3 linked regions of the Homo sapiens genome follow. The protein of the gene in region 1 purifies or fractionates together with the protein of each later gene. This does not show direct contact. Each region holds a gene or a part of one and is shown in the gene's direction. Other genes may lie near its edges. The genes, in order: ART4, PIGU and GPM6A.

Region 1 (3,656 bases):
GTGAATCATCCCGTTGTTTGGGGGATCCACAGTCTACACTGTGAGTCACTTAGTAGCCCTCTCAGTGATCAGATCTGCTGTCTCGGTATTGCAGTGTTTGTTTTCAAGTGACCCTCATTTTATTTCATAATGGCCCCAAAGTGCAAGAATAGTGATCTTGGTGATTCAGATATGCCCAAGAGAAAGTGCCTCCTTTGAATGAAAAGTTTAAAGTTCTCAACTTAATATTTTCTTTATAAATTGAAGTGAAGAGGGAAGAGATAGGTCAGAGGCATCATATAATCAGCCAAGAGCTGGAATTGGAGCATTTTCTCACCCTCCACAGCTACGAAACTATCTGGGAAGGTAAAAGAAGGAGAGGAATAAGCTCACATTGCAGGGATGCCTTTCTTCCTTTGATCCCAGACTCTGACTAAGGGTTGCAGAGAAGGCTGGTCCATCCTCTGGTTCTACCTGACCTACCTAAGCCTCATCTGCCATTGGCTAGTTAGCATCACAGTCATTTAGTTGAGGGCAAAAAATTGCAGTAATGCCCCCTTACCTATGGTTTTGCTTTCTCTGGTTTCAGTTACCCGCAGAATATATTAAATGGACAATTCCAGAGATAAAGAATTCCTAAGTTTTAAATGGTATGCCATTCTGAGTGGTGTGATGAAATCTTGTGCCTTCCCTCTTGGGATGTGAATCATCCACAGTCTACACTGTGAGTCACTTAGTAGCCCTCTCGGTTATCAGATCTGCTGTCTCGGTACTGCAGTGTTTGTTTTCAAGTGACCCTCATTTTATTTCATAATGGCCCCAAAGTGAAAGAATAGTGATCTTGGAGATTCAGATATGCCCAAGAGAAAGCGCCTCCTTTGAATGAAAAGTTTAAAGTTCTCAACTTAATAGAAAGAAAGAAAAAATTGTATGCTGAGGTTGCTAAGATCTACTGTAAAAATGAATCTTCTACCTGTGGAATTGTGAAGAAGGAAAAAGAAATTCATGCTAGTTTTGCTGCCACACTTCAAACTTTATCATTGATGATATATATATATATGTATATACATACATACACATATGAAAATAACATAGGGTTCACTACTACCTGTAGTTTCAGGAATCCACTGAATGTCTTGGAATGTATCCACTAAGGATAAAGGGACACTACTGAATACAGTCTTGGACAGGACACAATATCTATCTCTTATGATTTAAAAAATGTTTGATTGCCAGCCAGGTGCAGTGGCTCACACCTATAATCTCAGCACTTTGGGAGGTCGAGGCAGGTGGATCACAAGGTCAGGAGATCGAGACCAGCCTGACCAACATGGTGAAAGCCGTCTCTACTAAAAATACAAAAATTAGCCAGGAGTGGTGGCACGAGCCTGTAATCCCAGCTACTCAGGAGGCTGAGGCAGTAGAATCACTTGAACCCAGGAGGCAGAGGTGGCAGTGAGCCAAGATCGCGCCACTGCACTCCAGCCTGGGCAACAGAATGAGACTCCGTCAAAAAAAAAAAAAAAGTTTGATTGCCTTCAGAATGTTTTCAGTTATTCGCTACAGTGTTGTTTGTTTGTTTCTTTGTTTCTTTGTTTTTCTCTCAATCAGTAAGCGAAGGAACATCAGAAAGGTCCTTAAAGTGATTTATTTTAACTGATAAGTAGTACTTACCCCAACATTCTGGAGCAGTATTGGACTGAGCCATACATGAACAATAAGAGGAAGGAGGTAGTGTGTCTTTCTTATCTGGGATCCTTAACAGGGAGGAAGTAAGATCAGTGGACTCTCCCCAGACCCAACTTTCTAGATAGCTACCATTTCCCACTTCACTGCTCCACTAACCCCAGCCTAGGGAATTCACAGATGGTGTTCTGGAACACTGATATCTAACTCCTCACGAAACTGTAATCTTCTCTGGACACTATTTCTCATTCTTTCAGCTTCGTTTTGTTTCATGAGCAGGAGCCACAAGCTATTCTGTGTCCCCAGAAGTCCCTATAAGCCAAGTGAATTATGTTTTCTCTCCTGTTCCCTCTCAATCTGACAGACGTGATACTGGAAAGACCACTTGAAGACCTTTAAAATTACCCAGCAGCATACTGTAATTCTCCCAAAGAAGAGACAGTATATTTAAGAGCATAGCTTCTCCAGTCCTTCAATTTATGCTAAAATCAGTCCTGTTAGCATGTAACTCAAGTTTAAAGAGTTTCCAGGAATCTGTTGCTTTTAGAGAGACAAGAGATCAAATTAATAGAATTATACTATTTAAGGAAGTAAATTTGCAAAAGGAAAAATTGTCATTCTAAACTAACAGCTTTCCTCTCTAATTATTCCATCACCCCTCACATGACCTGTACTGGTTGCCATAGAAACAGGTGTCTTCATGCCCATTGGAAGACTCAAAATATGTTAACAGAATGTTAGTTATTTGCCCTTAAATCTTGCTTCTTTCAGCAAAATAACCTATGCCAAAAATCTGTAGACACACAAATACATGCTCTGTTCTATATCATTGGATTCACAAAGAACAGGGATTTATTTGTTAAAATGTTTCACATAATCAAAATTCTTAACATGTTTCTAGAGAAATATAGGCAATTGTTTGTAGTCAGCCTGGTTTTACATGTAAACTTCACTTTTTAAAAACCTGTACGATTCTAGTGGGGAGAAAATGAATGAATGCATGTAAAATCTCTTAGAATAGTATCTGACAAATGTTAAGTACTCAAAACTTTTAAGATACTATTATCATTATTATTATTTATTTTATTAGCTTTCTATTTTGCCTGTTTTCTTTTACTCTGGGCTTCAATTATCTAAAATTAGTTTACCCTATTTGTGGCATCACAATGACCTTGAAGTAGAGTGTCTGTCTCAGATAAATGGATGAAAGAATGAGTCATTGAATAAATCTGGGAGACCACACGGCATGGTGGAAAGTGAATAAACTTTGGAGCCAGAAAGATTTGGGTATATGTTAGTAGCTAGGTGACCTTGTGCAAATGACTTAACCTCTGAGCCTGTTTCTTCATTTATAAAATGGAAGTGATACTCATCTTGTGGGAATGTTGTGATAGCATTGGTGTCTCTGCCTCCTTTCAAACACAACTGAGAAACTCTGGGAAAGTACTTTGCACATGGAAGTGGGATAATGGTTTAATGGCACAAGCATGTGCTTCAGTGAAATTGATAGTAAGAAGAGAAACAAAGGAAGAGGCAGAAGGAATAACGCTTTTCATTTTCGGGTGCTAAGTTTTTGCTAGGTAATATTCTACAATATTAACACTCTTGCTCCTTGCATTTTGACAGAAAGAGGCTATAGATAGCATTTGCCTCAAACACTAGACTTGGTATACTGCACGTCAGCTTTACCTTTTTCTGTTTAAGGACTATTTACTTCTGAACAGTCTGATAAAATTCAGATTCAGACTTCATGAAATAAAAGTTATAATCATTATGTATTTCTTCCAGACTTTATACCCTAAGGCAGAGATGACCAAAATCAGGTTATAATACACTGATAAAATGATATTTGTTTGGCAGTTTAGTTTACAAAACGCTTGGACACCCATTATCTGTTTAGTTTTCACAATCACCCTGTAAGTCAGGTTATTGACTCCGCTGTACTGATGTGAATGCTGAGATTCAGAGAGCTTAAGGGATTTGCGTAAAAT
Region 2 (3,656 bases), on another chromosome or scaffold:
TGTTTTCTCACATACTGGGGTGGTTTTTTTGTTTTCTGGTAATTCTTATTTTCCTTTTTCTTACAACAATAAATTATTTCTCTTCCCCCAGCATCTTTTTTTTTTTTTGAGGAAAACATTTTTAAGAGAGGAAAAATTTAGAAAATGTATAATGATAGCCATATGTCTACTGCCCAAACTAAACAGATATTAAGATTTTTGCTATATTGTTTCATAATTGCTGTTGTCATACTTAATAAAATATGTGAGGCCAGGCGCAGTGGCTCATGCCTGTAATCCCAATACTTTGGGAGGCCAAGGCGGGTAGATCACCTGAGGTCGGGAGTTTGAGACCAGCCTGGCCAACATGGTGAAACCCTGTCTCTACTGAAAATATAAAAATTAGCTGGGCGTGGTGGCAGGCACCTGTAGTCCCAGCTACTCAGGAGGGTGAGGCAGGAGAATCCCTTGAACCCGGGAGGTGGAGGTTGCAGTGAGCCGAGATCACGCCGTAGCACTCCAGCCAGGGCAACGAGCGAAACTCTGTTTCAAAAAAAAAAAAAAAAAAAAAAAAAGCCAGGTGCAGTGGCTCACGCCTATAATCCCAGCACTTTGGGAGGCCAAGGTGGGTGATTCACGAGGTCAAGAGATGGAGACCATCCTGGCCAACATGGTGAAACCCCGTCTCTACTAAAAATACAAAAATTAACTGGGTGTGGTGGTGCGCACCTGCAGTCCCAGCTACTTGGGAGGCTGAGGCAGGAGAATTGCTTGAACCTGGAGGCAGAGGTTGCAGTGAGCCGAGATCGTGCCACTGCACTCTACCTTGGCGACACAGCAAGACTCTGTCTCAAACAAAGGAAAGCAGATAAAGTTGAAGTTTTTTTAACCCAAATTTGGCGTTTTTTTAAAGTCTTTTTTTACTTGTTTATTTCTTTTCATTTTGCATATGAATGCCAGGTTATATGAAGTTTCTTAGGTTCCAATTATATTTTCCTCTCTGGTTCCCAGGAGGCTAATACTATCATAACTTTAGTATATGTCCTTCTAATCTATGTTTTATGAAACTTACAGATGTGTGTGTGTGTGTGTGTGTGTGTGTGTGTGTGTGTGTGTGTGTAAATAATAGTATTATTTGGTATAATCTCAGAACACATAAGTATTTTCATATAATAGGCTTGTTTAGCAATTTTCTATTATAACTAACCTCATATTTTTTAGATCTAGCCATGTTGACATTTATAGATACAATATATTCATTTAACCTGGCAAATAGTATACCATATGTCAATATACCACAATTTATTTGTTCCTCTATTGAAGGATTTTTTCTTGATATTCCAAACAATGGTGCAATGAATCTTCCTCCATTTGTATCTTCTGCAACTTGTCTCCAGGATACATACCTAGAAATGGTGTTACTAGGTCTGAGGTCAGAGGATGCACCCGTAATACCTTTTTAACACTTACATCCTTCTTAGTTAATTAAAGACCAAAGCAAAATTATAAACCTGTGTATCATAGTATGGTTTTGCGGGAGGGATCTTTAAGTGTAAGCTAATAGCTGCCCTCTGTTGTTTACATCCCTAAGTTTATATCACTTTGCCTTCTCTCCAGCGGCAGTACATACCTGTGAAAATGAAGAGCAAAGCCTTCTGGATCTTTTCTTGGGAGTATGCCATGATGTATGTGGGAAGCCTAGTGGTAATCATTTGCCTCTCCTTCTTCCTTCTCAGCTCTTGGGATTTCATCCCCGCAGTCTATGGCTTTATGTAAGTAATGACCACGTTAGAAAATTCTAGAAGCTGTGGGGAAAAGGGAACCCTTGTATACTGTTGTCAAGAATGTAAATTAGTACAGCCATTATGGAAAACTGTATGAACATTCCTCAAACAACTAAAAATAGAATTACCATTTGATCCAGCAATCCCACTTCCGGCTACTTACTTAAAGGATTTTTTTCTTTTTTTTTTGAGACAGGGTGTCGCTCTGTTGCCCAGTCTGGAGTGCAGTGGGGCCATCTCCGCTCACTGCACCCTCCACCTCCTGGTTTCAAGTGATTCCCCTGCCTCAGCCCCCCGAGTAGCTGGGACTACAGGCATGCACCACCACGCCCGGCTAATTTTTGTATTTTTAGTAGAGACAGGGTTTCACCATGTTAGCCAGGCTGGTCTCAATGATCCATCTGCCTTGGCCTCCCAAAGTGCTGGGATTGCAGGTGACTCAAAATTTTTGAAATCAGTTTGTTGAAGATTTGTCTGCACTCCCATGTTCATTGCAGCATTATTCATAATAGCCAAGTTATGGAATCAATCTAAATGTCCATCAACAAACAAATGGATAAAGAAAATTTGGTATATATACACAGGGGAATACTATTCAGTCTTAAAAAAGGAAATTCTGTCATTTATGACAGTAGTAGGGATGGAATTGGAGAATCTGATGCTAAGTGGAATGAGCTAGGCACAGAAAGACAAATACCGCATGTGTTCTCACTTATATGTGGACTCTAAAACAATTACGCTCATAGAAGCAGAGAGTAGAAGGGTGGTTACCGATGCCGGCAGGGTGGGAGAATGGGGAGATAATGGTCAAAGGGGTACAAAATCTCAGGAGGAATATGTTTTTTTCTTTTCTTTTCTTGAGTACTAGCACAGTGTGGTGAATATAGTTAATAATAGAGTATTGTATATACCAAAATTGCTAAGAGAGTAAATTTCAATCGTTCCCACCACAAACAATGTTTAATATTTGAAGTGATGGAAATGTTAACTAGCTAGATTTAATTATTCTACATAGTATTCAGAAATCATAACATCACATAAAATCACCCATAAATTCGTACAACTATATGTTGTCAGTTAAAACCCCCCCGACAAAACTCTGGAAGCTAATTTGGTTTTCATAGCTCTAGCTGGACTCAGAGGGTGAGGGACCACAGGAAGCCTTTATATTAAATAGCAGCGGTTCTCAAACCTTAAGGTGCATCAGAATCACCTGCAGGACTTATTAAAACCCAGATTGCTGGGCCCACCCTCAGAGGTTCTGATTAAGTAGGTCTTGGGGAGGGATCAACAATTTGCATTTCTCCGGTTTCCAGGTGATGCCAGTGCTGTTGGCCTGCTGGTTTAGGGAACACACTTTGAGAACCTGTACTCTGAAACACACCTTTGATATGGTGGGATTAACCCATTTATGCCTAGTGTTCTATTATTGGAACACGAAGCTTGTGGGAGTTATTTACGTCCTACTGCTCAAGGTCATCGCCAAGGTCTGATTTTTCACACAAAAAAATTTGCAACCTCCAGCATAAGTGGGTTAAAGAGCACTCCCTGGGAACATCCAAAGCAAATACCAGCCTCTAACTGGGAGGTTTGGGCTCAATTCTAAACAGGAATGGATGTGTTCCTCTAGTGCAAGAGGGCCTCTGACAGTTTGAAAATAATGCCACCTGCCACACGTCAAACCTTGAGGGAAAACTCAAATGGACTTGAGTATTGCAGGCTTGTCTGAGTTTATATTCATGAATTCTATAAACATTTCCGAATGCCCTCTGCGTGCCAGGCTCTGCATAGGTGCCGAAGACTCGGTTGCTCCCTAAGCTTTGGGGAGCTCACAGCCCAATAGGTGACAGACTCTTAAACCTGTGCATGTGTGGAAGGGATCTGAGTGGCAGA
Region 3 (3,656 bases), on another chromosome or scaffold:
TAACCTGTTTCTAACACATTTTATTATGCTTCTTGGTGTCAACAGCAACAATAATCTGATAAGATAGTTTGCCTGAGTTGTGGGTATTTGTAGTGGTCTCTGGAATTATTTCTTATAAGAATCATCTGTTTTTAGTTTGGGACAAAACTTATTGTAACACCCAAAGAGATAAAATATATGAGTAGGAGTAAAACTGGAATCCCAATAATGTGACTAAGGGGCTTTAAATTGTGCCTTATTATTGAAATTATTTAAATCAGTAATAGCGAATTATAGATCCAGGGAAACTTAGTTACAGAGAGATATTGGATTGATGAAAAAATAAAATATGACTAATTTGTGGTCCAATTTTCAGTGATGCCCAAGCAATTTCTCCAGTAAAAAGGCAAATTCCGATTTTAAGATTCATTTCCCTTCTGTCAATAGAGTATAGTGAATTGAGTTATATAGTAATTGGCTTTTTATTACAATTGGAACAGTAACATTGTAATGCCACTGGTGTGCCTTGGCAAGTTACTTACCTTTTATGGATCACAGTTTCCTCATTTACAAAATGAGGATCATTTCTAAAGCTTATTCCAGCTCAACGAGTCTGTGATTCTAAAACCCTAACGAAAAAATAAAGAGATAAGGGGGTCTGAAAGCACGTCTTTACCGTAAGGTAATAACCTTCTGCCAGGACGAGTGCAGTCAATTGTGTTATTTCATTCAGAATTTGAAAATAACTTCATAATAAAAAGACAAAGCAATCAAGGAAGAATTGCATATCTATATATAGAGAGAGATGCACTTGGTTATCTGCCTGCCATTCAAGCATCTTAAAGGTATTTCAAATAGGAATTTTCGAAGCAAAACATGAGCCACGTTTTCTTTCTTTCTTTTTTTTTTTTTCTATAATGGTAACAATTGTGTCACCAGTCCCACCCAACAGACCAGAAGGGTGGCAGCAGCTGCTGCGTGGGCTCCTCCAGAGGCAATGCAGCAGGGTGTCAGCCCAGCAAGATGCCCCGCCCACTCCTGTAACACCTCCCTGACACCCCGGAATGAGCAGAGCAGAGACAGGAGTAGGAGCTGCATTCTTCTGCGTTCTGCAGAGACAGCAGAGCAGCGGGTGAGGCTCTGAGCCATACCCTGGCTGTCCCAACACTGCCTTCACGAAGGGGGCTAGCTCCACGACTGAGAAGTAAACAGTGGCGGCTGCAGCCAGCGCTGCAGAACCCTGCCTCCCTTCCCCTCTGCCAACCATTCCTCCACACCCCCACCTCAGCTTGCATATCACGCAGGACTTGTAGCTCCATGAAATCGAGGGGAAAAGAAAGATTTATCGTCCACCCTCTCCTGCTACTTATTTCCACTCTACTGATGCTGCTTTTTTTTTTTTTTTTTTTTTTTTTTTTTCGTTTGTAGGCAGATTGTATCTTACGGTCTACTTTATTATGTTCAAAGTGAACCTGTTAACCTCTTTTGCCTGTGTTCCGTAGCTGTGAATGAGTCTGTGCTTTTGAAGGTACTATATCGGTGCAGCTCTAGTTGGAACACTGAATAATACTAAAGGGTGGATTTTTTTTTTTTGCAACAAGTATATAAAAATCTTCCTTAGTTAATACTAACAGAAATTTGTTATTCTATCCCTGTTTCTCTCTGCTGCATAAAAAGTAAATGGTTACTAATTGAAATTATATCAGCACAAATGCAATTAATTTTGAAGCAGCAGGCCGGGCGTGGTGGCTCACACCTGTAATCCTAGCACTTTGGGAGGCCGAGGCAGGCGGATCACGAGGTTAGGAGTTCGTAGACCAGCATGGTCAACATAGTGAAACCCTGTCTCTACTAAAAATAAAAAAATTAGCCGGGCATGGTGGCAGGCGCCTGTAATTCCAGCTACTTGGGAGGCTGAGGCAGGAGAATCGCTTGAACCCAGGAGGCAGAGGTTGCAGTGAGCCCAGATCGTGCCACTGCACTCCAGCCTGGGCGACAGAGCAAGACTTTGTCTCAAAAAAAAAAAAAAAAAAAATGAAGCAACATTGTATCACTGAATGGAGAGTGATAATCAATATTCCCTTTACTTAATGAATGCCTTTGAAAGCATAACTTGGTCTGCATTCTGTGTTTCCTTTCATGCGGTATCAGCACCAATTCAAGTTCATTACAATATTTTAATGCTATCTGTCATTCAAAATCCAGAATTTGAGGCACGTAAAACCACAATATTAAATTTTGAGGGTGAAAATCATTATTAACGACTTTATTAAAACATTATATGAAAAGTTATTAAAGTATTTTAAGTAACAAAATTTATTTACCTTAAATATTAAATGGCACCAAATTGAGTACAAATACATGTTATTGACTACATTGAACATGACCTTTTTAAGTTTAATGTAGAAGTATTTATTTTCTTTAACCATATTTTCTTATTAAAGTTTAAGCCAAAACATATTTATTCCGCTGCAAATTAGGAGACCTTCAGTGTGTCACATTTTCAAATCTTGAGATATTTTTTGCCCCCATCCCCAATTTTCTTATTTCTACAAATTTCCGATTGCTACTGTGACATCATTATGGATCTCAGAATTTATCTATACTTCTTCTGAAATTTAGATTTTTAAATGCAACACTTTCGAAGTAATAGATTTCCCAAATGTACTAAACTCTATGGAATTTTCAATAAATGTATTTTCCATAAATCTACCTGCTCTAAGAGTTAAATAAAACAATAATAACTTTTGGAAGTGTGTTTACTAGTTTGCTAGGGCTACCACAACAAAGTGCTATAAAGTGGATGGCCTAAACAACAGAAATTCATTGTCTCACAGTTCAGGAAGCTAGAAGTTTGAGACCAAAGTGTCACCGGGTTGATTTTTTTTTTTTCCTGAGGGCTGTAAAGAACACCCGGTTCCATGTTTCTCCCCTACCTTCTGGTTGGCTGCTGGTAATTTTTGGCATCCAGTGGTTTATAGAAGTTTCACCCATCACTGCCTTCACATTCATATGATGTTCTTCCTGCCTGAAAAGCTGTGTCCAAATTTCCCCTTTTTTTATAAGGACAGCAGTCATATGGGAATAGAGCCCACCCTAGTGACCTAATTTTTTACTTTTTCAACTCAGTAAAGAGCAATAAGGTCAATCTCTGAGACACTGGTGGTAGAATTTCATCATATGAATTTTGTGAGGACACAATTCAACTCATAACAGTCTTATGATAACAGTAATGTTCTTCCATATATAAGTTTTAAAGAAACAAAATTAACTAGTTGCTATTGTTACCCTGTTTCAGAGATAAAGAAACATAAAAGGTTGAATATCCTAATCTGAAAATCCCAAATCTGAAATGCTCCAAAATGTGAAACTTTTTGAGCGTCAACGTGATGCTCAAAGGAAATGTTCATTGGAGCATTGCAGATTTGGGGTATTTGGATTTGGGATGTTCAACTGGTAAGTTAATGCAAATATTACAAAACCTAAAAAAAATTTGAAATTCAAAACACTTCTGGCCCTAAGCATTTCAGACAAAGGATTTTCAACCCTTATTCTATTTGTTTAGTTTAAAACATCTGTCTTATTAGCCTCAGGTGTTTGTAGATTTGGCCACAGCATATTAGATTAGTATTTTTAAGACATACTCTGTATAATTATCTTAAAATCTATTCTGTATA

What was found.
Region 2: the proteins of ART4 (region 1) and PIGU purify together in Homo sapiens (affinity purification with mass spectrometry; one large-scale study listed by BioGRID and IntAct). This does not show direct contact.
Region 3: the proteins of ART4 (region 1) and GPM6A purify together in Homo sapiens (affinity purification with mass spectrometry; one large-scale study listed by BioGRID and IntAct). This does not show direct contact.

What each region holds. Positions count from the first base shown.
Region 1 is NC_000012.12:14,833,460-14,837,115, reverse strand, and holds part of ART4 (ecto-ADP-ribosyltransferase 4 isoform 1 precursor), read left to right. Parts: intron 1-3,656.
Region 2 is NC_000020.11:34,586,548-34,590,203, reverse strand, and holds part of PIGU (GPI-anchor transamidase component PIGU), read left to right. Parts: intron 1-1,596; coding exon 1,597-1,751; intron 1,752-3,656. UniProt on the Homo sapiens protein: Component of the glycosylphosphatidylinositol-anchor (GPI-anchor) transamidase (GPI-T) complex that catalyzes the formation of the linkage between a proprotein and a GPI-anchor and participates in GPI anchored protein biosynthesis.
Region 3 is NC_000004.12:175,669,220-175,672,875, reverse strand, and holds part of GPM6A (neuronal membrane glycoprotein M6-a), read left to right. Parts: intron 1-3,656. UniProt on the Homo sapiens protein: Involved in neuronal differentiation, including differentiation and migration of neuronal stem cells. Plays a role in neuronal plasticity and is involved in neurite and filopodia outgrowth, filopodia motility and probably synapse formation.